2 separate regions of the Homo sapiens genome follow, and region 1 is linked to region 2. The links come from fine-mapping of genetic effects on gene expression. A gene starts in region 2. The other region holds a variant in brackets. All regions are shown on one strand. Distances are between the middles of the regions.

Region 1 (11,838 bases), 80 kb after region 2:
GGAGATCCTAAGCAGCTCCCTCCGACAGTCATCTCTATGGTAAGTTTTTTATGTTCAGATTGCTTTAAAATGGAAGGGGCTTTTTAAAATTTTTGTTTTCAGGAGGGAGAGACATCTTTCTTGGATTGGCCTCTTAATTTGGAGGGAAAAGTAAGCAGTAACTAAGAAAAGAGAAGCACTTAATAAATTTTAAAAAATGCCTAAAAATGTCCATTTGGTCATAGTTGTTCTTCTGTGTATGTGTGGCAGAAGCAGTGTGGCAGGGACTTGGAAGCCTAGATGGATGACGTGCCATGGAAACCAAGCTTTGGGAAAGGCAGTGTGCATGTCTGCCTTTTTTAAGTCTCTTAAGAGCTGAATCTGATTTATTTTAATCATACAAACACCAAAACAATAATAAAAGAAAAACTTCAGAAATAAAGAGAAGAATCCTACCCTCCTCATTTTTGTTTAAATATGTACAAATTGAGGAAAACATGAAGTTAAATTAATTTTGGAGTACATTTCCATTTTTAGAATTTGGTATTCTAGTGTTAATACAAGAACATGTCTGTGCCCTTCACATCATCTGAAAGTGAAGGTACAGGGGAAAAAAAGACTCAATTACAAGCTCTGACTTTGGGAAGAGAAGAACCAGACTGTAGTCTACTCTTCTCTGTTGGTTTTTTTTAATCTCATGAAAGATTCTCCTGGAAATGCACATTAGAATCAGGATCCAGTAGATGTTTTGAAGTAATCTGAAGAGGTTTTGAAATTTAATGAAATGTGTATTTTTTACTAATAACATAGATTATTTATACAGATAATTGAGCAGTGGCTTCATAAATAATCCTAGAGAACAGATCATTTTCAAAGCATTTTTGTTGAAGCTTGGAATGAATGCAGGTGGTTATCGTTAGTGGTTTTTGATTTCGGAATTATTCAGAATGATAGTGCAGTTCTTTGTATGACATTTGAGCGCAGGTACATGATCATGTTAGAGTGTGGCCCAGAAGCACACCCGTCACCCAGTGAAAACCCGTGTGTGTAGGGAAGAACTGCTGCAGGTAACTTTGTTCACGGAGAATAATGAAGAGCAAATTCTGTATCCCATTTCTTTAAATGATGCAGGATTTCATTGAAGGGCCTTGGCATATAGTGAAAAGAGAGATTGTTAATGGGCCTCAACTTTACTGCCTACTTCAATGATTGATAAAAACAACAAAAATTAGAAAAAAAAAATCCATTTGTGCTGTTTAAATTGTTGTACAAATAAAACAGGCTATTTTGAGAAAATAATTACAAAGTTCATTTCCATAAGGTGCCTTTTTTGACCACCTGTTTCTAGTGGTAATTACAGTGAAAGTGAGTATTTTTAACAGATATTGCTAGGCATTTGTGTGTTTATTCGTCTTTTTCAGTATGTATATATTGAGTGCCACCATAATTCAGGCACTGTTTAGGGGCTGGGGTTATGACAGTGAAGAAAACAGACAAAATCCCTGCCCTTATGGTGTTTGTATTCTAGGGGTTAACAGTGAGTCAGTTACTAAAAAGTGGTATATGGTTTGTATACATGTATATGTTTATGTGTATATGTACGTGGGTTTGGTTTTGTTTAAAGGTGGCAAAATCATTCTGTGCAGAATTGGTTTTTTTTTCAATCAGTAAATCAGGGACATCCTCCCATGTCAGAATATATATTAATAAATCTATGTCATTTGTAGAATGGACTAAGGTTTTGTCTGGAGGTAGATGCGTTACCTTACATAACTTCCTTTTCTGTTTCCCCAAAGAAAAGATTAAAAATTAGGTTTTGTGAGCTAACGCAGATAAACTTTTGAGGATTTAGGGAAAATTGGCATGTATCTATTAATAATTATTTTATGCTTTCACAAACCTGTTTAAAATCACACATATAAATAGGTTAAGAAGTAATGCCTTTCTTCCACTCCCATAGTTTGTGAAACAAGTTTATTCAGGCTTTGCACGTCTTCAGTGCCAGTATCTTTCACATCACTCATGAAGATTCCATCATCTTAGTGAAGTTTTCAGCACATTTTTACTTCAGGGTTATTTAAGATAAAGTACTTTTTGAAACTTTTCTTTTTTAATTATACTTTAAGTTCTAGGGTACATGTTCACAACATGCAGGTTTGTTACATATGTATACATGTGCCATGTTGGTGTGCTGCACCCATTAACTCGTCATTTACATTAGGTGTATCTCCTAATGCTATCCCTCCCCCTCCCCTTTTTGAAACTTTCTGTGTTGCTGCCATCGGAAAGTAGATCCCAAGGCACAACTGTGGTAACATCAAGACAGTTTATCCCACTTGTCACTTAGGTCACTGTTTTTCAGATTGCAGAATATAACCCATTATTTGGTTTGTGAAATCCATTTAGCACAGCTTCGGCGTTCCTAATTCAAAAATTTGAAATGCTTCACCATCTGAAACTTCCCAAGTGCTGACTTTATGCTTAAAGTTCACGCTCGAAGGATATGCTCATTGGAGTATTTTGGATTTTTGGATTAGGGATGGTCAACACATAAGTCGAGTCTGTTTCCTTCACTGGAAATTAAGTCCTGTGAGACTTCATCTTATTCACTCTAGTGGTCTTAGCACTTCAAATTATAGATGCTTAGTACATATTAGATGGATGAATGAAGAATTTTGTCTTCAAAAGGCTTGTTTACAGTGGCATTCAATATGTCTGTCTGTGAGGGTGTACCCCCAGAAATAATTGTTAAAATCTGTGTTACATTTCCTTTATTACTGGTTTTTTTGGGTGGCGTCTTGTAGCATCAAAATAGCATCAGTTGTCTTTCACAAGATCATATCTCTTTCATTAGCAGTATATGAGTAGAAAAGACCTCCACATATATTCAAGATTCATGGCATTTTGGCCAGGTGTGGTGGCTCATTCCTGTTATCCCAGCTACTCAGGAGGCCAGAGACATGAGAATCGCTTGAACCTGGGAGGTGAAGGATGCAGTGAGCTGAGATCACGCCACTGCACTCCAGCCTGGGTGACAGAGCGAGACTGTGTCTCCAAAAAAAAAAAAAAAAAAAAAAAAAAAAAAAAAAGATTCATGGCATTTTGAGGCTCAGAGTCAGAAACACCTTTTTTCTCTGAAGCTGTGGTTGGTAATCTTATGCTACCTGAACGTTGCCATATACGTATTAGATCTCAGTAATTGTGTTTATAATAGTGGGAAAGATATAAATGAATTCTTGGAAACTGTTGCTTTATTTTGCCCCTCACAGAAAGCACAGGAGTATGGCTACGACCAGTCAATGATGGCTCGCTTCTGCAGACTGCTGGAAGAGAATGTAGAACACAACATGATCAGCAGGCTGCCCATTCTACAGCTCACTGTTCAGTACAGGATGCATCCAGACATATGCCTCTTCCCTTCTAATTATGTTTATAACAGAAACTTAAAAACAAATAGGTGAGTTCCCCTTATTGTTTGTGACCTTATTTTGTTGTAGTTTAGCTACTTATGAAGAATAGACATTTTACTGTCGTCTTAGGTCTTGTCATAAAAAGCATAAATCATGAAGGGTTAATAATTTTGTCCTGTTATAATAGCCATCATGTTGAATACAGCAAAGCACATAAAAAAGAAAAGGGGAAAAAGTCACCTATATTTATACTACCCAGAAATAATCACTGGTAACATTTTGGTATATCCACTTTCAGCAGTCCTTTTTTTTTTTTTTTTTTTTTTTGAAGACAGGGTCTCATTCTGTCACTCACACAGGATGAGTGCAGTGGCACACAGTCCTGGCTCACTGCAGCTTCGACCTCCCAGGCTCAATCAATCCACCTGCCTCAGCCTCCTGAGTAGCTGGGACTACACTCAGTCACCACCATGCCTGGCTAATTTTTGTATTTTTCTTTTTGTAGAAACGGGGTTTCGCTATGTTGCCCAGGCTGCTTTCGAACTCCTGAGCTCAAGCAATCCACCCGCCTTGGTCTCCCAAAGTGCTGGGATTACAGGCGAGAGTCACCGCACCTGGCCAAGTTTCAGTCCTTTTACTATGCATATCTTTTTTTACTTTTTAAATTTTTGAAGGAAAAATGTGGGACCATACTTAACATAGTATTCTGTGGCTTACTCTATTATGAGTGTCTTTCCAATCATACTTGTTATATTTTAATGATATAGACACCTCTCCCAGCACCAGGAAAGAAATAGAATTTGTTTTGTACCTTTCACTAATACACGTCTAGAAAAGAATATTCCTGCTATCCCCTTACTTGCCCCAGCCCACATCACCACACAGAAAAAATTGTAGTAATACCAAGATATTTTCTTAAATCTTGACTTTATTCTGAATGTTGACTGCTTTTTTTTTTTTACAGACAGACAGAAGCCATTCGATGTTCATCAGATTGGCCATTTCAGCCATACCTTGTGTTTGATGTTGGAGATGGTTCAGAAAGACGGGATAATGAGTATGTTTTCCTCTTGCCTCAGTCCTCTGATAGTCCCAGAATTGTTACATGATTTGCATTCATATTTCTGTTAAATACATTTCCTATACACATCTCTCTGCCTAGTGTCAGGGCACAGTCATGTTCACTTAAGTTGATGCTTCTTTTTTCTGTATAATGGGGATAATATTACCTAATGTCATAAGCAAGTGCTTGAGTAGATACTTGTTGAGCTCACAGCAGTGAGGGAAACAGACGTGCCCATTGCAAGATGGTGGTCTCATGGGAAGACAGGCCTTCAGCAGGTCATCACCTGGGTAAGCAGTTATTCCAGTTGGGTTAAGTACTGTGAAGGCTAAGTATAAATTCAGTTGAATGAAAATGTGAAAGGGAGGAAGGAAGTAGTGACAGAGGTTGGATGGTATTGGGTTGTGAATAAGGGCATGTGTTCAGGTGGTCTGTATATGACAGCAAAGAGGAGTGGTGTTGCTAGAAGCAGCAATGTCAGAGGAGCTGGGGATTCTTGTGAGAGAGTAGGGGAGGAATGGTCTAGGGGCAGCATTTGTTGGCACGGATACAAGTGCCACTCTGTCATGAAGTAGGAGGAAACACAAATCCCACTTCTACATCATGGGATGGCTGCAGAGCAGGTGGCGTCCTCAGGCGAGAATCAGGCGTTAGATAAGATACAGAGGTGGAAGTAGGGAACACTCATTGAAGAGGTTACACATACAGAGGAGTTGTTGGCCATGGGATTGTAGTGCTGGAGGGACTGCAGCCTAAAGGTTTTAATGAGGCCTCTTGGAGGAGAGCAGAGGATTGCGAGTTAAGCCGCAGAGCATCATGAGGATTTCAGGGATGGAAGAGATCGCTAGCTGATTGGGTTGTCCATTTAGTAAGTCTCAAAGTTAGGAGAATGGGTATTTAAGGCTCGTAAAGCAAGGCGGGTAAGGTAGCCTCAGGAATCAAGGGATGGGGCAGTGCATCCCCTGGTCTTGGTGCATTTTGGGTCCGGTATGGTCATGAGGGAGCATGTGTTTTCAGGAGGGGTTGAGAGTGCAGGATATGAGGCTGCTGAGGACTACAAAGAGGACATGAACCTGCTCCAGGGCCCCATGTTGTTCAACTGGGGTCAAGTGGGACACATCCTTCACATTGAGTCTGTGTGGATGGCAGCTGCTCGGTTGTGTGGTGTGTGTTGTATGCAGCCAGTGGTGAGGGACAAGGAAGATCATACATGTAAAGCATTTTCTCAGTGTTCGGAAGATAGTTAATCCTTAATTCATGTTAGCTATCTCTTATTCACATCTTTGTTCTTATTAATACTGCTGTTCTTAATACTGCTCTCCCTGTTTCAACAGATGAAGAAAGTGGTGCCTAAACTTCAGTTGATTTCAAACTCTTTTCTCTCTACAACTTCATTTTTCACTGGGCATTTCACATGTATTCATATTTACCATAGTATTTTCACATTTATTCATATATACCATATTAATGGTCATTGTAACAGCCTCTTGGAGTCACTGCTAGCTGAATAAAAGATGAAGCCTATCTGCCTGCCCTTTACTATAATGGGAAACAAACTCAGTGGAACTTAAGTTAGCAATTAGCCTGCTATTAGTTTTGATAACAC[T/G]GTGTTTTCTTTTTCCATCTTGTTTAGCTCATATATAAATGTTCAAGAAATAAAACTGGTGATGGAAATAATTAAGCTTATTAAAGACAAAAGAAAGGATGTTAGTTTTCGAAACATTGGCATAATAACTCATTACAAGGCCCAGAAGACGATGATTCAGAAGGATTTGGACAAAGAGTTCGATAGAAAAGGGTGAGGCATTTTTATAAATATTTCCAATTTTCTTGTTGAATTAGAATGAGAGGATATAGAAGGAAAGAAGAAAAGGGAAACTCTTAAGGAGTGGTCTGTGCAAATTGGTGATACGGCACGAGGAAGCTGGGATGCTGCTGGCTTTCATAGACTTGTGCTGTGTGGCTCCTGGGTAGACAGGTTACTTCCTGGCAGTTGGAATGTCAACATTCTCCTTGGCAGTGGAATTGACTAAGAAACTTGCCAGGTCTTTACCTTTTAGTTCCATGACTTGTTCATCTGAATTCTTGTTCTAGCAAGACTAAAAGTAACATTTCACTTTAAATAAATGATTTAACCCTTGTATTGCCTTTATGTATAGAATGAAAATCATGTTTTTGTTTCCTTCTTACCTCAGCAGTAAAATTAAAGATTAAATATTGGAGATCCATAACCTTAAAATCATCTTAACTTAGAAGCACACAGACTACCAAAATCGAATCTAGAAAACAATAGAAAATCAGACCTGTAGGCTGGGTGTGGTGGCTCACACCTGTAATCCCAGCACTTTGGGAGGCTGAGGCGGGCAGATCACCTGAGGTCAGGAGGTTGAGACCAGCCTGGGCAACATGGTGAAACCCCATCTCTACTGAAAAAAAATACAAAAATTAGCCAGGCGTGGTGGCGCGCTCCCGTAGTCCCTGCTACTCGGAAGGCTGAGGTAGGTAAATCGCTTGAACCCAGGAGGCGGAGGCTGCAGTGAGCTGAGATTGCCCCACTGCATCACTCCAGCCTGGGTGACAGAGCGAGACTCCATCTCAAAAAAAAAAAAAAAAGAAAAAATCAGACCTTTATAACAAATAATGAAACATTTCCCAATAATGAAAAGCCCAGAACCAAGCTAAGCTGGTGAATTCTATCAAATATTAAAAGAAGAATGAACACAAGTCATTCTCACATGCTTCCAATAAATAGAACACTCAGATTCATTTTTTGAAGCCAGTATTACACTGATACCAAAGCCAAGGGAAAGTATCACAAGAAAACTACAGATCCAAATCCTTTATGACTAGATACAAAAATCCTCAACAAAATAGTGACAAACTGAATTCAGCAGGTTATTACAAGGATTTATACATCAAGACCAAGTGGGATTTATCCCAGGAATGCAAGATTGCTTCAACATATGAAAATCAATATGATATACCATATTAGAAGAATGAGGAGACCCACATAATCAGCTCAGTAGATACAAAAAAAAGTTGCACGGAACCCAAAATGCTTTGATGATTTAAAAAAAAAAAAAGAATACAAAGGAACTTTTTTTATTAATAAAAGGCATTTACAAAAAACTCATAGCTAACGTTATACTTCATGGTAAGAATGAAAGCCTTTCCTCTAAGATCAGGAGAGATGTTTGAAACTCTTAATGCTTTTTTTCAACATTGTACTAGAGGTTTTAGCCAGAGCAGTTAAGTAAGGAAAATAAATAAAAAGCATCTTTACTGGAAAGAAAAAAGTAAAACTCTCTCTTCATAGGTGGCATGATCTTATTTCTAGAAACCCTAACAAAGCCATTCAAAGGCACTATTAGAGATAATAAGCTTAGCAGGATACAAGATTAATATGTGAAAGTTGATTATATTTTGATGCAACTAGCAATGAACAATCTGAAAAGGAAGTTGAAACAATTCCATTTACAATAGCATCAAAAAGAATAAAACACTTCGGAATAAATAGAACCAAAGAAGTATAAGACTTGTACGCTGAAAACTGCAAAACGTTGTTGAAAGGAATTAAAGAACACCTAAATAGGCCGGGTGCAGTGGCTCATGCCTGTAATCCCAGCACTTTGGGAGGCCCAGGTGGGTGGATCACCTGAGGTCAGGAGTTCAAGACCAGCCTGGCCAACATGGTAAAATCTTGTCTCTACTAATTATACAAAAATCAGTTGGGCATGGTGGCACACGCCTGTAATCCCAACTACTCTGGAGGGTGAGGCAGGAGAATCACTTGAACCCGGGAAGCAGAGGTTGCAGTGAGCTGAGATCACTCCATTGCACTCCAGCCTGGGCGACGAGAGCGAAATTCCATCTCAAAACAAAAAAAAAACCACCTAAATAAATGTGAAGACATCCTGTTTTCATGGACTGGAAGACTTAGTGTTGTGTTGTTTTTTGCATTTTTTGTGTGTTTTTTCATTTTTAGTAGAGACAAGGTCTTCCTAAGTTGCCCAGGCTGTTCTCAAACTCCTGAGTTCACACAGTCTTCCCAAAGTGCTTGGATTACAGACATGAGCTACCATGCCCAGCCAAAGACTTAGTATCAGCGTGACCATTTCTGTAAAAAAGGCAGTTGGATTACATCTGTAGATCAATTTGGGGAGCGCTGCCACCTTAACACTAAGTAAATAACTTGTACTATGTGGTACAATGAAATATTAATGAAGAAAGGGATGAAGTTCTGTTACATGCTACAACATGGATGAACTTTGGAAATGTTATGCTAAGGGAACAGTCACAAATAATCACATTTTGTAATTCCATTTATGTGAAACTCACAGTATAAGAAAATCTGTAGAGACAGGAAGTGTATTAGTGGTTGCCAGGGAATGGAGAGAGGAGGAAATTCAGGCTAACCTCCAAGAAAATGTTTTTAAAATGTCTTAGCAGCCGAGCATGGTGGTGCATGCATCTCCTTGGGAGGCTGAGGCAAGGAGGATTGCTTGAGCCCCAGAAGTTTGAGTCCAGCCTGGGCAACGCAGTGAGACTCTGTCTCTCTCTCTCTCTCTTTTTTTTTTTAAGTTTCTTTAAAAATAAAGACTGTAAGGCCAGGCATGGTGGCTCACATCTATAATCCTAACATTTTGGGTGGGTGAGGTGGAAGGATTGCTTGGGGCCAGGGGTTTGAGACCAGCCTGGGCAACATGGCAAGACCCCATCTCTACAAAACATGGAAAAATTAGGGTGGTGGTCCATGCCTGTAGTCCTAGCCACTTAGGAGGCTGAGACGGAGCTCAGGTGTTCAAGTTACTGTGAGCTATGAATATGCTGGTGCACTCCAGCCTGGACAAGAGTGAGGCTAGACTGTCAAAAACCAAAAAACTAAGCCGGACGCGGTGGCTCACGCCTGTAATCCCAGCACTTTGGGAGGCCGAGGCGGGCGGATCATGAGGTCAGGAGATGGAGACCACAGTGAAACCCAGTCTCTACTAAAAATACAAAAAATTAGCTGGGCATGGTGGCGGGCACCTGTAGTCCCAGCTACTCAGGAGGCTGAGGCAGGAGAATGGCGTGAACCCGGGAGGCAGAGCTTGCAGTGAACTGAGATCGCGCCACTGCACTCCAGCCTGGGCGACAGAGTGAGACTCCGTCTCAAAAAAAAAAAACCAAAAAACTAGTTTATAAATATGTATACTTAATAATTATCTTCCTTTTTCCAGTAAATATGTTTCTCTTTTGTAAATAGACCAGCAGAAGTAGACACTGTGGATGCATTCCAGGGTCGGCAGAAGGATTGTGTTATTGTTACGTGTGTCAGAGCAAATAGCATCCAAGGTTCAATTGGGTGAGTTACTGTCATTGTTGCTCTTTTATACTTGTATACATTGTTGCTTGTTTATAGTTCAGGATTAGGTTCATTATCACTGTTAGAGAACACCATTTGCTTTTTTAATTTTCTTTTGTGAAAACCTGTGTAATACTATGAAAGTTTCTCTTTTAAGTTGTGAAATAGACCCACTGTTAGATCTTGGTGCAATCTTGGCCCACTGCATCCTCCACCTCCTGGGTTCAAGCGATTCTTCTGCATCAGCCTCCCGAGTAGCTGGGACTACAGGCATGTGCTACCACGCCCAGCTAATTTTTGTATTTTTCTGTAGAGACAGTGTTTTGCCAGGTTGCCCAGGCTGGTCTCAAACTCCTGAGCTCAAGTGCTCCACCCACTTTGGCCTCCCAAAATGCTGGGATTACAGGCGTGAGTCACTGCGCCCGGCCTTGGTGTCTTTTATATTAACCCATTTCATAGTGTGAATCTGTTCTTTTATTTAATAAGATTCAAATAAATAATTAGATTATACTTTGCAGAGGCATATTACTCCCCATGGTATGTGTCAAAGTGTCATTGTTTTCTGTGTTTTCCTGCTTTGGCTAAATTTGTTCACCTTAACTACTGTCAGTTTATTTAAGATGCTAAGGACACCTGTATGAGTGACAGAAAATATCCCAAGCCCAAGACTCTTACATGATTATTTGTTTCTTGTCATGAGAAGCAGACAGAATTTACAGGTTATAAATTAGTTCGTTTTCAAATAAAATAGTAATTAAAGTAATCTTTGCCCCTCCCTGGGATGGGCTGCATATACAGAGCCCAGTTGTATCTCAGGGTCAGTTTATAAATAGACCTTTCTTTCCCAGCTAATTTGAAATTTCACTTTTATCATACATCAATTCTATTTCTGAGCTCTTTTTCTGATCTACTGAAATATTTATCTGGTGTTCATGTATTTCTACACTAGTTCTACAATATCTTAACAGTCTAGATATATTTAAATGTAAGAATAAAGTGATTAGGCTGGTACCACATTTTTAGGATTTTTCAAGGCTTCAAGATTGCACTGTTAAAATTTCCAATTATCTTATCCAGGTAAAAATAGGAAATTGATAGATGCATCACTTTGAAGGAAGCCCCGAGGTTTTGGTTTGTTTCCTGTTTTTAATAGGAATTCTTCTGTGCCCGGTACCCTGTATTGGGACGGAGAGTAAGAAAGCACTGTGACTTCTAGAGGAGTGAAGGAGTCCCGGAAAAGCTGCCTGCAGTCCACCTGTGTCTCACATGGGCATGCTGAGTCATTCTAGAGTTCACCTGTGTCTCACTGGCATGCTGAGTCATTCTAGAGTCCATCTGTGTCTCACATGGGCATGCTGAGTCTAGAGTCCACCTGTGTCTCACACGGGCACGCTGAGTCATTCTAGAGTCTACCTGTGTCTCACATGGGCACGCTGAGTCATTCTAGAGTCCACCTGTGTCTCACATGGGCATACTGAGTCATTGTAGAGTCCACCTGTGTCTCACATGGGCACGCTGAGTCATTCTAGAGTCCACCTGTGTCTCACATGAGGATGCTGAGTCATTCTAGAGTCCACCTGTGTCTCACACGGGCACGCTGAGTCATTCTAGAGTCCACCTGTGTCTCACATGAGGATGCTGAGTCATTCTAGAGTCCACCTGTGTCTCACACGGGCACGCTGAGTCATTCTAGAGTCCACCTGTGTCTCACATGAGGATGCTGAGTCATTCTAGAGTCCACCTGTGTCTCACACGGGCACGCTGAGTCATTCTAGAGTCCACCTGTGTCTCACATGAGGATGCTGAGTCATTCTAGAATCCACCTGTGTCTCACACGGGCACGCTGAGTCATTCTAGAGTCCACCTGTGTCTCGGGCTCACTGAGTCATTCAAGATTCCACCTCTGTCAGACACGGGCACGTTGAGTCATTCTAGAGTCCACCTTTGTCTCACATGGGCATGTTAAGTCATTCTAGACAAAGAAGGAACTCTTTTTTTATTGCCTAGATTCCTGGCAAGTTTGCAGAGATTGAATGTCACCA
Region 2 (11,838 bases):
GAGGTTGCGGTGAGCCGAGATTGCGCCATTGTACCCCAGCCTGGGCAACAAGAGGGAAACTCTCTCTCAAAAAAAAAAAAAAAAAGACTCACTTTATATTTAAAGACATAAATAGTTAAGAGAAAAACATTCTTTGCAAATAGTAACCAAAACAGAGCAGAAGTAATTACACTAATGTCAGACAAATTAGTATAATTTGTAGCTTGTTACAAATTATTGTTACAAAAATTGTTACAAGGAACAAAGGATATGATATAATGATAAAAGCATCAATCCATCAGAAGATATAACTGTCATAAATATATATACATATATATAACCTATATATATATAAAATCCATATATATATGTGTGTGTATATATATACATATATACCTAACAGAGCCCCTCAAAAAATGAAGCAAAAACTGATAAAATTGAAAGGAGAAATAGATGTACAATAATATTTGGAGACTTTAACACCCCATTTTCTTTTTTTTTCACTTTTCTTTTCTTTCTTTTTCTTGTTTTTAAAGACAAATCGCTTTTGTTGCCCAGGCTGGAGTGCAATGGCATGGTCTTGGCTCACTGCAACCTCTGCCTCCTGGGTTCAAGTGATTCTCCTGCCTCAGCCTCCCGAGTAGCTGGGACTACAGGTGCCCTCCACCACGCCCAGCTAATTTTTTTTTTTTTTTGAGACGCAGTCTAGCCTTGTCGCCCAGGCTGGAGTGCAGTGGCGCGATCTTGGCTCACTGCAACCTCTGCCTCCTGGGTTCAAGCGATTCTACTGCCTCAGCCTCCTGAGCAGCTGGGATTACAGGCACCCACAACCATGCCCAGCTAATTTTGTATTTTTACTAGAGATGGGGTTTCACATGTTGGTCAGGCTGGTCTCAATCTCCTGACCTCGTGATCCACCCGCCTCGGCCTCCCAAAATGCTGGGATTACAGGCGTGAGCCACCACGCCTGGCCTAACACCCCATTTTCAATAATGGATGTAACACTCAGACATAAGATCATTAAAGAAACAGAGGAATTGAATGACACTATAAACCAACTAGCCCTAACAGGAATATACAGAACATTCCAACCACCAGCAGCAGAATAGACATTCTTCTCGTGTGCACATGAAACATTGTCTAGAACAGGTCATATGTTAGGCCTCAAGCAATTTTCCATACATTTAAAAAGGTTGAAATCATGAAAAGTATATGCGCTGACCACAATAGAATGAAACTGCAAATAACAGAAGGAAGACAAAAAAATTCAAAAATATGTGGAAATTAAACAACATGCTCTAAAACAACCAATGAGTCAAAGAAGAAATCAAAAGGGAAGTTAAACACTTTGGGCTGGGTGTGGTGTCTCACACCTGTAATCCCAGCACTTTGGTAAGCCGAGGTGGGAGAACTGCTTGAGCTCAGGAGTTCGAGGCCAGCTTGGGCAACATAGCAAGACCTTGTCTCTACTAAAAAAAAAAGAAAAAATCAGCCAGGCATGGTGGCATTTGCCTATAGTCCCAGCTACTTGGGATGCTGAGGTAGGAGGATCGCTTGAGCCCTGGATATCAAGGCTATAGTGAGCTGTGATCATGCCACTGCACTTCACCCAGGGCAACAGAGAATGATTCTGTCTCAAAAATAAATAAATAGATAAAATAAAATACTTTGAGACAAATGAACACAAAAATACAACATACCAAAATCTATGGGATGTAGCAAAAGCAGTGTTCCAAGGACAAATTATAGCTGTAGACACCTACATTAAAAAAGAAGAAATATCTCAAATCAGTAACCTACTCTTTTACCCCCAAATGGCTGTGGAATTTGTTTGCTTAATGCATAATGGTCCTGGCAAAAATCAGTTAACCAACACTGAGAGATTTGTAATGAAAAACCAACTTTAAATATTCATTACACCTTGATAGAAATTAGAGTTTACACAAACAAAAAAAGAAACTTTTGATATTGTCAGTCAATATAAAATGAATGTAATATGACTGATAGCATGGCAAGAAGGCATTTATACATTTTTCTCTAACATCTGACCACAGTTTAAGTTGCCATAATATCTTCTCTCCAGATAAAAATAGTATACTGATTTCTATAGCAAAGATTTTCTTGTACAAAAATCAAACAATGGATAAGTCACAACCGTAAAATATATATAGGATTAAAAAAACACATCAAACAGGTTCTGAAACTAAAGAACAACTAGGAGGAGGAGGAGGATAGAGCCCTTGTAGGGGGCTTGTTTTCATCCACTTGAATGTGTGTGGGGTTTGTCTTCTGAGCCACAAGTTCTGACTTGTCTCATAAAAGCCAGTTATTCTGACCAAACTTCTAAGTAAACACACAAAACACTTCTAATATTAAACATTGAAATAAATGTAGGCTATACATTCAAGAAAGATTAATAAAAGACTAATCTTTATTAATAAGATTAACAAGGTAATAATCTACCCACTCATTCCAGTTCAGGATCGCGGATGGCCAGAATCTTTCCTGGTGCCAGGTGGGTGCCAACTCTGGACAAGATGCCATCCCTTTGCAGGGTATACACTCACACACACACCCATGCTCACTCAGGCTAGGACAATGTAGACATGCCAATCAACCTAACTGGCACATCTTTGGAATCGGGAAGGAAATTGGAGTACCTGGAGGAAACCCACACAGACATGGGGAGAAGGGGCAAACTCCACACACAAAGTGGCCTCGGGGCCAGGCACGGTGGCTCACACCTGTAATCCCAGCACTTTGGGAGGCTGAGGCAGGCGGATCACGAGGTCAGGAGTTCAAGACCAGCCTGGGCAACATGCTGAAACTCCGTGTCTACTAAAAATACAAAAATTAGCTGGGCGTGGTGGTGCGTGCCTATAATCCCAGCTACTCAGGAGGCTGAGGCAGGAGAATTGCTTGAACCGAAACCTGGGAGGCGGAGCTTGCAGTGAGCCAAGATCGCATCACTGCACTCCAGAGCCTGGGCTACAGAGGGAGATTCCGTCTCAAAAAAAAGCCTTGAGCAGGAATGGATTTTTTTTTTCTCATCAATGTTATAACAAAACCACATTGAACAAAATGATCTTATTAGAGAACCTGCTATACTTAATATTGTTAAGGTGTCAATTGATTCCCCAGATGTATCTAAAAATACAATTCAATCCCTATAAAAATTCCAACTGCTTGTACTTATTTATTTGCAGAAACGGGACAAGCCAATTCTAAATATTCACATGGAATAGCAAGGGACCTTAAGTAGCTAAAACAATTTTGAAAAAGAACGATACTGGAGGCCTCATACTTCCCAGTCTTTTTATTTATTTATTTATTTATTTATTTATTTATTTATTTATTTATTTATTTATTTTTGGAGATGAGGTCTCACTCTGTCGCCTCGCCTCTCGGGTTCAAGCCATTCTCCTGTCTCAGCCTCCCAAGTAGCTGGAACTACGGGCATGCACCACTAAGCCTGGCTAATTTTTGTATTTTTAGTAGAGACCGGGTTTCACCATGTTGGCTAGGCTGGTCTTGAACTCCTGACCTCAGGTGATCTGCCCACCTCAGCTTCCCAAAGTGCTGGGATTACAGGCCTGAGCCATTGCGCCTGGCCATGTTTATGGTTTTATCAGCTTTAGAAGTTTGTAATTTGTACTTATTTATTCATTCCAAATAAGTATTAATTTTCATTTCTAATTTTATATTTACAAAGTCTATTGCAGTGCTTCTGTTTAACATTCTATAGGTTGTGTAAGTTTTGGGCTCAACAATTCCTGAATGCACCTTGAATCAATGAGTCTCAGGACATAACATTGAGTGTAAAAAGCAATTTGCAGAAAAATACATCCTCCATAATTCCATATACAGAGTTAAAAAGCATGTAAAATTTATATGTTGTTCACAGACAAAAAATGTGGGAAGATGATAAGGCCTACAGAGGGCTTCAGGGACAGGAGGAAATTATGACTTTTGTGGGCTCTGGGCACAAGTTACCTTCATGGCACTTTTCTCCATTAAAAAAAATGATAAAAATTATATTTTATGGCCGGGTGCGGTGGCTCAAGCCTGTAATCCCAGCACTTTGGGAGGCAGAGGCGGGCGGATCACGAGGTCAGGAGATCGAGACCATCCTGGCTAACACGGTGAAACCCTGTCTCTACTAAAAATACAAAAAATTAGCCAGGCGTGGTGGCACGTGGCTGTAGTCCCAGCTACTCGGGAGGCTGAGACAGGAGAATGGCGTGAACCCGGGAGGCGGAGCTTGCAGTGAGCCGAGATGGCGCCCCTGCACTCCAGCCTGGGCGACAGAGCGAGACTCGTCTCAAAAAAAAAAAAAAATTATATTTTATGACTGTGGTGGTATAAAGGCTGTGTTGGTATATTAGTGTTATATGATAAAACAAAATATGTTCAAAATATTTGACAGGATGAAGAAGTAGAAAAGAGGAAAATAACGGTCAACGCGTGCTGCTCCTTAGACGGTTAAATTTGCATAACGGCCACCACGCCCTTCCAACAAGCCACGCCCCCTTGCTAGAATCTTCCTTCGCCTTGGGCCTTTCCCGCAGTGTTCCCCTGGGCTTGCTCCTCATCCTCGGGCCAGGGTTCTCCTCGGTAAGGCTGTATCTGACCCACTTTTCCCAAGCTGGCCCATCTCAGCCTCTTTTTTTATCGCCTGAGTCACCACTACTAATTGTTTAATTTCCCTGTCTCCTCTATTAACTGTAAGACGGTGACGCTGCATCATCGTGGTCAGTAGTAGGCGTTACTAAAAGGGGGTAGGGGCCGGGTGCGGTGGATCACGCTTGTAATCCCAGCACTTTGGGAGGTCGAGGCGGGGCGGATCACTTGAGGTTGGAGTTTGAGACCATCCTGGCCAACATGGTGAAACCCCATCTCTACTAAAAACATGAACATTAGCCGGGCGTGTGGCACACGCCTGTACTCCCAGCTACTCGGGAGGCTGATGCAGGAGAATCATTTGAACCCAGGAGGCGGAGGTTGCAGTGAGCCGAGACTGCGCCACTGCACTTCAGCTTGGGTGACAGAGCGCGACTCCATCTCAAAAACAAAAAAGGGGGGGGATAGGCTTTCCAGTGGATTTTACTCATTTTTATTTATTTATAGACTTTTCTGAGACAGGGTCTTGCTTTGTTCCCCAGCCTGGAGTGTAGTGGCACAGTCACGGCTCACTGCAGTCTCGATCTCCCGGTCTCAATGGATATCCACCCCCTGCCTCAGCCTCCCAACAAGCTGGGCCCACAGGTGCTAATTTTTTTTTTTTTTTTTTTTTTTCCGGAGAGAGAGTCTCGCTCCTTTGCCCAGGCTGGAGTGCAGTGGTGCGATCTCGGCTCACTGCAACCTCTGCCTCCCGGGTTCAAGCCATTCTCATGCCTCAGCCTCCTGAGTAGCTGGGATTACAGGCACCCGCCACCACGCCCAGGTAATCTTTTTATTTTTAGTAGAGACGGAGTTTCACCATGTTGGTCAGGCTGGTCTCGAACTCCTGACCTCAGGTGATCCACCCGCCTCGGCCTCCCAAAGTGCTGGGATTACAGGCGTGAGCCACCGCGCCCGGCCTCGGTGGCTGAGTTTTAATTTTTTTTTGTACATACGGGTGTCTCGCTATGTTGCACAGGCTGGTCTCTGAACTCCGGGCTCAAGCGAGCCTCCCGCCTGGGCCTCCCAAAGTGGTGGGATTAGAAGCGGGAGCCACCGCACCAGCGAGGGATTTACTCTGCTGTGTTGCGCATCGCGCGCATTGTTCGCAAGACCTAAGGTCTCCCTTTCTTGTAATATAAAGGATATACACATATTCCTCCGAAATTACACGTTTATGTAATTTACATTTCAGGTCTTTAAAGGAAATCTAAAGAGAAAAATTACTTCGTCACCGTAGTACATCCGCTGAGACACCTGAGGCGTGGAAAAAAGAAGAAAAAAGAGGGAACGGAAATGGCCAGCGGGTAAGGGCTGACCCCACCCGCAGCAGAGCTCATCCCGGAGCCGCCCCACCCGCAGGAAGCCCCGGGCGGGGCCGAGGTCAAGGTTCCGCGGCAAACTCTCCCCGTCCACCCTGACGGGGACTCGGGATTGGTCGGGCCCCAGCTGCCCGGACGTGACGCCAGCGCCCGGCGTGGGCGGTGCACCGCGGCCGCTCTTCCCATGCCCCGCCCCCTGGGGGGCACCAAAACCAGAAAGCAGCGGCCGGGGCGGGGCCTGCGGCCGGCCGACTCAGCGCGGGGGCGGGGCCTACCTCGCGGCAACAGCTGGTTGGTAGCTGCGGCTGCGGGCCCGCACTTCCGCTGGTGGCCTAGAGCGGGGCCCGGTATGGAGGTGGGCTAGAGGCCGACGCCAGCCAGAGAGCGGTGAGGGTAGCGGCGGGCTGGAGGCCGTAGGTCGGGCGGGCGTGAGCGCAGGCGCGGCTTGTGCTTGCAGGGCCGCTTCGGGGAACCATCGCGGCGCCTAGGTCCCGGTGGGCGGATGGGGGAAGAGTCGGCGCGGGCTCGGCCGCTTCCCTCGGTGCGGGGGCGGGAGCACCCCTCGACGGCTGGCGGCCGCCTGTTGCCTTCCTGCGCGCTGGACCCGGCCGCTGCGACCCCCTGTCCTTCCGTTGTCTACACTGCGGTCTCGTGTGAGCTGTTTTTGGTGTGGATACTGCGTAGTTTCCTTGGGGCTGAGCGGGAGGTCTCGGGGTGGAAAGTGTCGGTTCCCTCCACACGCTCGTCTGCCTCTCGCCTGGAGTCCCTCCCTTTGTTTTTTTTTCTTTTTTCTTTTTTTTTTTTTTTTGAGACGGGGTCTCGCTCTGTCACCCAGGCTGAAGTGCAGTGGAACAGTCACGGCTCGCAGCAACCTCGTCTTCCTGGGCTCCAGCGATCCTTCCGCCTCATCCCCCCGAGTAACTGGGACCATAGGCGCGCGTCACCACGCCCGGCTAATTAAAAACAAAATGTGTTGCAGAGACAGGGCCTGGCTGTGTTTCCCAGGCTGAGCTCAGCTGCTCCAGGGATCCTCCGAGCCGCCGCGCCCGGCCGGTCCCTTCGTTTGGAGGAGAGTCTGTTTCTCCCACTTGGAGGGGCTGGAGCTTTTGCTGCTGGCCACAGGACTTTGTCCGTCCTCCCCAACTTCTGGGGATCTAAGGATGTGCCCAGCAATTTGCACGACCCAAGTGAAACGGGGGTGACTGCCTTGAGGGAAAAGAGCTCCACAAGGAGAAGGCCGAGTGTGGTATTTGATAAGTGACACAGCTGAGGATCCTAGGATTGATGTTACCTGCGCGGGCTAATAACTTGGGGGATTTTTGGCTCGGTGCCTAGCTGTCCCCGTGAGTGGGGACAGCCCCTTGTGGAACTGGGAGTCAGAATTGCAGTTCTGCTGTTTCCTGGAAGTCCACAGCCAAGTTGTCTAACCTATCTGGGCTTCCTCATCAGCCAGCAGTATCTGTCTGTAATAGGATCGATACCAGGCTCAGATGGGATATAGAGTATAAATGCCACTTACCAATTTCGTTTTTTGTTTTTTAATTTCAGAAATGTTCTTTTGGGGCCAGAGTCTGGGCATATATGAATGCAAATCCGTGTTTGTTCACAACTAAGCCCAGCTGAGACGATCACTTTTCTGTAGGCCATTTGTCCAGGTAATAATTTTTTTTTTTAGCAGGAGTTCAGAGCACCAAGGTAAGTGCAATGATGGAAACATGTGCAGAGTCCTAAAGGGACAGAGAAGAAGGTCATCAGAGATAGACTGGAAGAGAGGACGGGTCGGACAGGCCCCCCCCCCAGACGTGATGACACTCAGGAAGAGCTTGCACACTGGTTGTTCTCAAATCCAGCTTTCTCTTCGAATCTTAGTGGAGTTCTTTAAAAGGGAAACAATTTTATCCATAGGATCTTTTCTACTTTTTTTTTTAAGTTCCTGAGGTAAGTCTGATGTGTATTCACAGTTAAGTACCGGGCAGAGGTAGGAGGGTGGGTTTCCAAGGCCAGTGGAAGAGCTTCCATAAAGGCAGGGAATACCAGTCACCATGAATGGTTTTAGGAAGAGCAAGTCAAGGGAGGTAAGTGTGGAGGAAAGAGATGATGTGGAAGCTGGATCATCGCGGGCCTTGTGTGTGTTGAGCTCAGCAATTTGAATTTTATCCCAACATTGGAGGAGGAGTCATTTGTGCTTTCGAAGTCCAGTTTGGGGCTTTGGCCTCTGGCAGCATTTTGGAGGAGGAATTGATGGCGATCAAAGAAGAAATAGATCATTTAGGCTTCTTCAGTAATCCAGGCAAATGATGAAAATGTACTGAACTAAGGCAGTGGCGGTTGCACTGAGAAGAAAGTAGAGATGTAATTAAGGGGTAGGCTCTGGAGCTCAGAGATTGCGGCTGAGGGAGAAGGAGCGTATAGGATAATTCCTAGGTTACTGGTTTGAAAATTGAATGTATGGTAATGTCATCAACAAGGGAATATAGAACAAATAACAGATTTAAGGGAAGGACTTCGTTGGGTTCTGGTCATGTTTACTTTGAGGTGCCTGTCAGATATGTGAGTAGAGATACACTGTATGCAGTTGGATATTGAATATATCTGGAGTTCTAGGCTAGGCTGTCAGTTATTGAGTAGGTGGAACAGTGCATCATTTCACTCAACCTCCCCAGTAGCTGCGACTACAGGTGCATACCACCATGCCCAGCTAATTTTTATATTTTTAGTAGATACGGGGTTTCACCATGTTGGCCAGGATGGTCTTGATCTCTTGACCTCGTGATCCCTCACGCCTCGGCCTCCCAGAGTGCTGGAATTACAGGTGTGAGCCACTGCGCCCTGCCTGCATTAAGTTTTACAATACATTCTCAGTCTGGGCAGCTTCAATCTAGGCAGTAGTTGAAGCAGTGGTTTGAAGTAGGCCGCCCAGAAAGAGTACTGAATGAAGAGGTGAGAATTCTCAGGACAAGCCTTCGAAAACTTTAGCATTTATATGAGTAACAAAGGCAGGGGTAATTATGAAGGTGATTGGGTAGAAGTGGTGTCCAAAAAATGGTGTGTTGTAGGTAAGGAAAGGATGGGCAGCATTTTCATATGCTTTAGCAGAGTCAGGTCAGGAACCTATTGGATTGGTAATGTAAAGATTGTTAGGGACTTCACATTCAGTGGAGTGTAAGGGTAGAAGCCAGAGTGCAAAGGAGCTGAAGAGCTGGGAGGTAGTGAATCTAAACTTCCAGATGTTTAGCTGAGAAGTGTAGAAGAAAGAGATTGTTATTTGAAGTTTCTGGCTAGTTAATGTTGAGAAATGGATAGCCTAAGGATAAGTCTGTAGAAAATTACAGTAATACCTATGGTGAAGCATCCTATATTTTTGGTTTTGACACATTAGCTCTCTTTTTGGTGGGTGCTCAGAGAGTTGCTTTAATTTTGGTTTTGCAACTTGAGTATTGTCTGGACACACCCATTTGTCATTCACTAATGATTGCAAGCCGTTACAGTCTGATGAAACTAACAAAATAGACCTCAAGAAGAACTGAGTTGTATAAAAGCTTAAGAGGATTCACAGTAGTTTAGAAGCAATAATTTTCTCCTTAAAGACAAAATATGCCCTATTGAGGTTTCCTGGGCTTAGCCATTAGGCCAGTGATGATTTTAAATTTGAAGACAAAACCACACACACAGCCTTTTGAAGAAGAACCATGGAAGCACATGTTCTCTTGTTGGTGTGCTCTGCAGCAGTATTCTCCGTTATCTTCTAGCGGCCATGACACTCACCTATTTTGGTAGTAACTCCTATATATTTTGAGAAAATTTAGTCTTGCTTTTTTGGTTGTGGAAATAGGCTAGTTTTCTAAGTGAAATAAAAAGCAAATTCTGTAATTTTCTTAATAGAAGGTTTCTTTTGTTGTCTCCTTTGTTAGTACTTATTTTAAAGTACACAACATTTGGAGCTTCAAGTAAGGTAAGTGGGAAAAGAAGTATGCAACATTTTATTTGCATGGTAGTCTCACTTAAGTTTTTTAAAGCTTAAATTGGCTGCAGTCTGTTAGCTGCTGAAATCATGCTTCAAATGTTTGAGAAACCTCCATGAAGTTTCACTTTCTGTTCTTACGTCTTCTAAGTTCACTTTCCATATTAAACTAGGTTACCGGAAAAAAAAACAGCTTCTGCAAGCTGTTAACTTACTAGTAGTGTGATGTTGGCCTCTTAGGTATAAGTAATTCTTCTTTTGAATAAAATAATTTTAAATTCTGCAGAAATACATTGAAGACCTTATCCCATGTTACTTGGCATTTCCTAGTCTGCAGTGCCCTTGTACTAGAAGGCATTAATAAAATGTAATTGAGTTAGAGTTTGTGTCAGGAAAGGGCGGTACTCTGCGGCTATCACTGCATACTCTTTTTCCCCCCCACGTCGATGAGAACTGTGTAACTCATGTTATCCTTTTTCTCTGCTTTCAGGAAGCTCCTCATGTAGAACTTAGTGAAATTAAATTTCTTCTAAAGAAGTTTTGATTTTGTTTTTTGAAATCTCATTTTTAAATGTCCTTTTGTGTGTATGTACTTTAATGTTGAAAGCTACCCTAAATTCTTTTTAGAACCATGAAGAAAGTATACCTCTTCAAAAGCATAAGTAAAAGTAATATTTAATAAATTTTAAAAAATCAATTCATATGACAATGTATTTGATTATGCTTATGCATTTCTAAATAATTATTTAATTGTGGGTATAAGAAGAAATTAAAGAATTTTAAAAAATCACTTTATTTTAGGAACTAGCTTTATGCCACAGAAGCCTCAGCAGCCAAGCCTAGTTTCTGTTGAGATGTTTTATATTTCCTGTTGGTAAAGATTATGTATTCTGAATTTTAGGGTGACGGTGATACTCAAAAATCTCACACTGCCATGTTTCCATTCCCACATACTCAGTGTCTTCACTTAGGTTTCTTTTGTTTGTTTGTTTTGAGACAGAGTTTCACTCTGTCACCCAGGCTGGAGTGCAGTGGCGCAATCTTGGCTCACTGCAACCTCTGCCTCCCACGTTCAGGCAGTACTCCTGCCTCAGCCTCCCAAGCAGCTAGGATTGCAGATGCGCACCACCAGCTAATTTTTGTATTCTTTTTAGTAGAGATGGGGTTTCACCATGTTGGCCAGGCTGGTCTCGAACTGCGGACCTCAAGCAGTCTGCCCACGTCGGCCTCCCAAAGTGCTGGGCTTACAGGCATGAGCCACCGTTCCCAGCTTACTTAGGTTTTTTAACCTCCTTCTAACCTTTCTCCCTGAGTGGAGAGTTTTTAAACATTTTTAAAAACTGCCTCTCCTGTGAATTTTATTACCACCAATATATTGTGTCTCTCTTTATGTACTGTATGTTTATCTGAGCTTTATATCTAAAAAGAGGAGGGCTTTTTCACGTCCCACTAACTAGTTTTAGATCTCTTTGAGGGTGACATCACTCCTGATGAGAATGCTGAGCTAGGTCCATTCAGTTTATGAAATGAACTTAAGTTTGTAGTTGGTAACTTTTTTCCCCATTCCAAAATCTGTACTTTGAAAATATTGGTAAGTCTGGGTCTCTATATATTTTCTATCGGTACTGTGTTGTTTTGAGCCTTCTCTGTAGCACAACTTTATGTTGCCTTATGATACTTATTCCTTATACAATGCTTTTATTTTTCTGTATTTTTCGTATGTCAAAAATAGAAGGATTTTTTTAGTTTAGTGAATCAGTGATTGATAAGCCAGCCAGCAGAAGATTTGGGTTTTAGTGACACATTTTAAATTGAAACCAGGGTCACAAGTTGAAAGTGTACCTATTCTTGACACACAGTAGGTCTGAAGTTGGTTTTCTTCTTGATGTCATCTTTTCTGGCTGTAGGTACAGAATG

The links. PIP is the estimated chance that this variant, and not a neighbour inherited with it, causes the effect.
Region 1: its variant is fine-mapped to the expression of SETX in whole blood (TOPMed, PIP 0.93).

The regions. Positions count from the first base shown.
Region 1 is chr9:132,269,668-132,281,505 of GRCh38, reverse strand. It overlaps SETX (senataxin), which reads left to right. Exons shown (of 26, transcript NM_015046.7): 20 at 1-39; 21 at 3,249-3,436; 22 at 4,354-4,446; 23 at 6,086-6,250; 24 at 9,698-9,796; 25 at 11,804-11,838. Among named protein-coding and RNA genes, the nearest start is that of SETX, 79 kb to the left of the region's middle. RefSeq lists a silencer at 11,576-11,750 and enhancers at 10,851-11,836, 10,955-11,838, 11,837-11,838. The variant T/G (reference allele first, on the strand shown) is at 6,059.
Region 2 is chr9:132,349,426-132,361,263 of GRCh38, reverse strand. It overlaps SETX (senataxin), which reads left to right and starts at 6,278. Exons shown (of 26, transcript NM_015046.7): 1 at 6,278-6,347; 2 at 7,509-7,615; 3 at 11,829-11,838. The coding sequence starts at 11,836. RefSeq lists silencers at 5,979-6,368, 6,419-6,628 and enhancers at 6,013-6,512, 5,494-6,693, 6,513-7,014, 10,022-10,071.